Regions from separate parts of the Homo sapiens genome. Here region 2 is linked to region 1. The links come from fine-mapping of genetic effects on gene expression. Tissue or cell type: whole blood. Region 1 holds a variant in brackets; the other region holds the start of a gene. All regions are shown on one strand. Distances are from middle to middle.

The links. PIP is the estimated chance that this variant, and not a neighbour inherited with it, causes the effect.
Region 2: CPNE5 starts here. The variant in region 1 is fine-mapped to the expression of CPNE5 in whole blood (INTERVAL, PIP above 0.99).

Annotation. Positions count from the first base shown.
Region 1 is chr6:36,743,295-36,745,975 of GRCh38, forward strand. It overlaps CPNE5 (copine 5), which reads right to left. Exons shown (of 21, transcript NM_020939.2): 17 at 2,094-2,221; 18 at 1,754-1,856; 19 at 974-1,031; 20 at 395-468. Among named protein-coding and RNA genes, the nearest start is that of RAB44, 47 kb to the left of the region's middle. RefSeq lists a silencer at 1,639-1,839. The variant G/C (reference allele first, on the strand shown) is at 1,447.
Region 2 is chr6:36,838,136-36,840,816 of GRCh38, forward strand. CPNE5 (copine 5) reads right to left here and starts at 1,309. Exons shown (of 21, transcript NM_020939.2): 1 at 1,148-1,309. The coding sequence starts at 1,242. RefSeq lists a silencer at 1,773-1,982 and an enhancer at 2,667-2,681.

The DNA of each region.
Region 1 (2,681 bases):
TTGATTCAGTTAACCGAGCAATGCCTATTCTTGGAGAAGGCTGCAGCAACACTAAAGACACTGCCTCAGCCTTCAAGGGGCAGAAAAAAACCAGAACGAGGCTGACCACAGAGGCCTGGAGGCTGAGGAAGGGCTGGCAGAGGGTTCTGGCCTCTGGCTGGGCACCCGCAATGTTAGGAGTGTGTCCCAGATGTGACAGAGGGGGGCCCAGCCCAGACCACAGCATGGCCGAGGACTGACTCCTACTCCCTTCGGTGGTGGCTGGGCCACTTTGGGGCTCCCAGTGCCTCCCTTCTGGGCCCTTCACCAGGGAAGCCCCCAAAGGGGGTGTGAGGTCCGCCTGGCTAGAGGGGCTCTTGAATTTCCCATGGGGCAGGCAAGGCCTGGGCTTCACCTGGACGATGTCGCGTTCAGCCAGCTTCCCCCGGGAGGAGATCCGCACGTCGTCGCCATCCAGCTCCACCATGGCTGTGAGGGGAGGAGTGTCATGGGGCGGGGTGAGATTAACGGTGGACCCCTGGCCCTAGCAGGAGAGTGGACTTGTCCTTTCATCCCAGGCCAATCCAGGGCCGAGACCACTGGCCCATGCCCCGTGTTAGAGATGAGGAAACTGAGGCCAGGGGCCAGGAGGAGCCCGATCAGGTGAGCCTCTGACTTTGAGCCCAGTGCTTTGGTTCACCACCCTCCCCAGACTCCCAGGGCTGGAGGAGAAAGAAGTGACTTGGGGCCTCCTCCCCACAGCCTTGGGATGTGGGTGTGGGTGCACACCCAGACCTGACACACCCTTCCCTGAGCAAACAAATGCGTCCCACACCCTGCACACTCACCCAGACACACACGCCCAGGCGGGAGCTCTCACTCTTTTGGGAGGGGTCATTCCCAGGGGACCACAGCCTCTGGGGAAACATCTGGGGTGGGGGCAGGGTTGCGTGGCTAGGGAAGGAAAGGAGGGGAAGGCAGCAGCTGGACTCACCGTCGAACTCTGCCTGGCCCACGCCGACGATAATGATGGACATGGGGAGCTTGGCAGCCTGGGAGACAGCATGGGGGGCAGGGAAAGGTTGGACCCAATTGGGACCCAGTTAAAAGGAAGGAGAAATCAGGGGTAGGACAGGAAGGGGTGGGCAGGAAAGAAATGGGAGAGTGAACATGGAGAGACAGAGAAACACAGAAAAGGGGGTAGGGAGAGGGAGGGCACTCAGAGATAAAGAGCAAAGGAAACCAGGCTGCGCCTGGAGGAGAGAGGGAGGGTGGCAGGGGGAATGGGTCATAGGTCTGCTTTGGTGAGTCACCCCCATCCCCTCTTACAGGGAGACCACCGGCTTGGGGAGCCATGTTCCTGAGCTTCCCCAACTCTGAGCCTCCCCTCCCACTCCTTTGACCTGGCCAGGCTGGCCTGGGAAAGGGGGAAGCGGTCCTAGAGATGGGTTAATGAGGGAGTCATTG[G/C]GGTCTGGAGGGAGTAGACCAGAGCGTGACTAAGAGGTGGGAACAGAGCTCACCAGCCAGATCTCTCATGATCTGGGCACCCCTTCCACCCGCTAGAATCCACTATCCAGCACCGGACTCTGCAGCCAGAGGCCAGAAGGTGGATGAGGGCAGTGGGGCCCAGTGAGGCAGGGAAATGAGAAGCCACGCCCAAGTCATCTCCAAGCATTTCCCTAAGGTCAAGGAGGTAGGCACATCCCCAGGGTTCCCCTAACGGGGAGGAAGACACTCCTCAAACCGCCTCCCCCACCGCACACTCCTTGCTTACGTTGACAATGGCCTCCTTGGTCTGCGCCATGTCCGAGATGACCCCATCAGTAATGATGAGCAGCACCGAGTACTGGGAGCCATCCTGCACGGCCGCTGCATTCCTGGGTGGGGCAGGTGTGGGCTCAGGTCTGTCTGCGGGACCTCTGGGCATGTTCCCCCCTAAACAAGGACCCTGAACACTTTGGAGGGTGACAGCTCTTGGGGGAATCTCTTCAGGGTCAGGGCTCCCTGAAAGGCAAGTGCGTGGGAAGAGAAACCCCCTCCCACCACCCAGAGGCAGAGCTGGTGTGGAAACAGAGGCCTTGTGAGTGCCTGGAGGCGGTGGCAGCGGCACTCACCTGGCCACGTGGGTGACCACGGGGGCAAAGTTGGTGGGGCCGTACAGCTGCACAGTGCGCAGGCTGCGGTGGTAGGCCTCCAGGATGCCGTCGATGCCACAGCATGAGGGGTTCTCCTGGTTGCCATTCTGGGGGACAGAGGGCAGGGAGGCTGAGCCCAGGAAGGAAGGACAGGGGTGCACGATGTGTGGGAACTGAGTCCAGGTGGGGAGGCCAGCAGGCCTGGGCTCCCCCAGGTCTTCTCTGGTGTGGGGTGGCGGGGCAGGGGAGGGAGCTCCCAGGGCCCATCCTGAAGCAGTGCATGCTTCAGGTGAGCTGGGTCCAAACCTGCTCCTTACCCGGCTCCCTGTACCTGTTCAGAGATGCCCCAAGATCCCTGGCTGCTTCCCTCAGGGAACCTTGGGTAAATCCACTCTGCCCTAAAATGACTGCTGGGTCTCAGCAACTCAGGAAGGACCTGTGGCTGATCTGTCCACGTGCACACTGGGCCCAGCACAGCACCTTGCACCCTCAGGCATGGGAGGGACGTCTGCTGTGCCTGAGTGTCCCCAGCTCGTGGGAGCCAGGGAAAGGGGTGGCCTGTGCAAT
Region 2 (2,681 bases), 95 kb after region 1:
TGCCCAGACTCTCCAGCTCTACCTACACCTCATCAATGCCACAACTTTGTAATACAGGACTGGGGGGCAACAAGGTTACCTCTCATGGAGGGTCTGACCAAGGAGCAACCTGGAAGAGGATGAGATGGGTGATTTCGAACAAGGGCACAGCCAGGGCTCCAGAAATGCTGTCGGTGATCTGGGGCAGGGGGCATGGCCTCTGTGGGGGAACCTCAAAGTGGGTGATGCTTGCGTGGCAGCACATGATCCTAGGCCAGCCACAGAGAGACTGAACTAGGGAAAAATCCCCCTTTGCCACCCATACCCTCTTACTGCCAGGGGCAGCCTTCCCCTAGCTAGGAGAACCTGGGGTCGACCCAGCTCTTAGACAGAGAAGTTACCCCCAAACCCTGTGTGACATGAGTGAAGATTTGGGCGTGGTAGCCCACAAAAATATTCCCCCTCCTCCTCTGTTGGACTCTACAGTTTCACAATCAGTGTTCTATTCCTTTGGCTTAAGATTTTTGACCCAAGTTATTTTTTTAATGGTGCCACTTTAAGTTGTTATCATGTATCCACACCTTAGTATGAATGAGTCAATCTGATCCTTTTCCAGGAGTCGATTTCGTTGTTGATAGAGATGAAGGAAGGCTTTAAAATCCTAGAGTCTAGGACAGTGGGGTGGGGGAGACTGGTGAGGGGAGGATCAGGATGCTGGGGCAAAGAAGGGGCAAAGAGAGAAGAGAGGAGGGCACAGAAGGGAGAGGGTGGACGAGCCTGGGAGGGATGGGGGCAAATCACTCACTTCGTGATTTGGGGATGGGGTGATCAGAGATAGCCTGAGCAGAGACCGTAGTACAGCCTTTTACCAACTCCCTCTCCCCACTTGGGTGCCTGGACCCCCTGTTCCTGTGTCTTCATATCTCCTCGATGCAACAGCCTGGAGCGCAAACTTTCTGGGATATGACCCCAGCCTGGCTTCCTATTCTGCCGTCGCCACCCGCAGCTGGACAGGACAGGGGCTCTTGGCAGATCGGCAGGGGCGCAGTCCTGGAGACCAGGACACTCTGGGAAGGGGGCGCGCGGAGGTTTAGGATCGAAGCGGCAGGGGCCGCGGGGCTCTGCGTCCAGGGCCGGGGCAAGGGGACCCGGCCAGCGGGAGGCTCACCTGCAGGACACGGTGATCTCCACCTTGGTGGCCGGGATGCTGCCCGCCAAGGAGTCGAACTCGCTCAGCGACGCCATGTCCTCAGGCTGCTCCATCGCCCACCGCACCCCCCACCCCAAATTAGTCAATCCCTGCGCGATTCACGCCTCCTCCGGAGCGACTGGAGCCCTGGGCTCTCCCCCAACTCCAGAGCCTGGGCTGGGCGGCAAGGGGAGGAGAGAGGAGCGCGAAGAGGGGGCGTGGGAAGTGAGAGAGGGAAGAGGGCGGAGGGAGCGGGGGCCGCGGATCGAGGAGGGGGCTCGGGTGACGCCGCGAGGAGGCTAGGGGCCCAGTGGGGAAGGGCAAGGAGCCCAGGGAGCGGGGGCACAGCGGGGAAGGCAGAGAGGGGCGCGGGGAGAGGGGCTCGGGGAGAGGGCACCGGGAGGGAAACGCGGAGTCGTGGAGAGGGGCACCAGGAGAGGGACGCGCGTCTGTGGGCAGAGGTAGAGGGGATGCAGAAGACAGGGAGAGGGGCGTGAGGAGCGGGAGGCGCCGGATGGGGCGCTGGCGGCGGGGGTGGCGGGGCGCCGGCAGCGCGGAGCCCGAGCGCCCGGGCTGCGCCGCCTCTCCCTGGGTCTTGGCGCCGGCGGCGACGGGGCTGAGACGCGGCTGCGAGCGCCACCTCCTCGGCTCGGGCTTCGGCTCCGGGGCGCCCGGGCTGCGGGAAAATCAAATCTGCCCGAAGCCGCAGCCTCCCGCCGCCCGGGAACGCCAGAGGGGGCGCCCGCAGGGGCCGGGGCGGGGCCGCGGGCGGGGTCTGCGCGCAGGGTGAGTGTGAGCGTGTGTGTGTGCGCGTGTGTGTGTGTGTGCGCGCGTGGCGGGCCGGGGGACGCGGTCCAGATGCTGGGGACGTGGCGGGTGACAGCAAGAGGTGGTCCTGGTCGCGCGCATCTTCATTTGCGCCCGCCCCCTCTCACCACCCCTATCTCCCATCAGGGGTCTCCATCCTGGGGGAGGGGGAGGGTTATGGGAACCAACGGGCGCCTTTTTGAGAAAGGTCTATGCAGGGTTGAGAGGGGGCATAAGTGGGAGGGAGGTGTGCAAAAAAGATCCCCTCCCAGGGGCTTGGGTGTGGAGGGTCTCTGCTGAGTGTGCGCCCTACTCGGGGGCGGGTCTCAGTTCAGAAACAGACCCTACATCTCCTTCTGGGGAGGTGTGTGGGGGCGACCCCAGTGCCAGGAGGGACTACCTCGGTTTCCCAGTGGCCCAGGTGGGGTCGGTGCATGGGCGCCTCCCCCATCCGTGGTTCCCGCCAGCCGCGGCCTCGCCAAGTCGGCTGCCGAAACCACGCGCCAGCGCCCTTCCACTCCCCCGCCCGTCGTGACCACACGACTGAGCCAGCCTCCAGGTCTAGAAGCTCCTGCCACCCAGTCTGGTGGCAACCAGACTGGGAGATCGGCCCGAGCTCCCTGGGCTTCTATGCAGCCAGCACCGAGTAGGCGCGTGCTGTGTGCCTGGCGAGCGAGGGGAGAGTTGGGACACCTCTCCTGCAGTC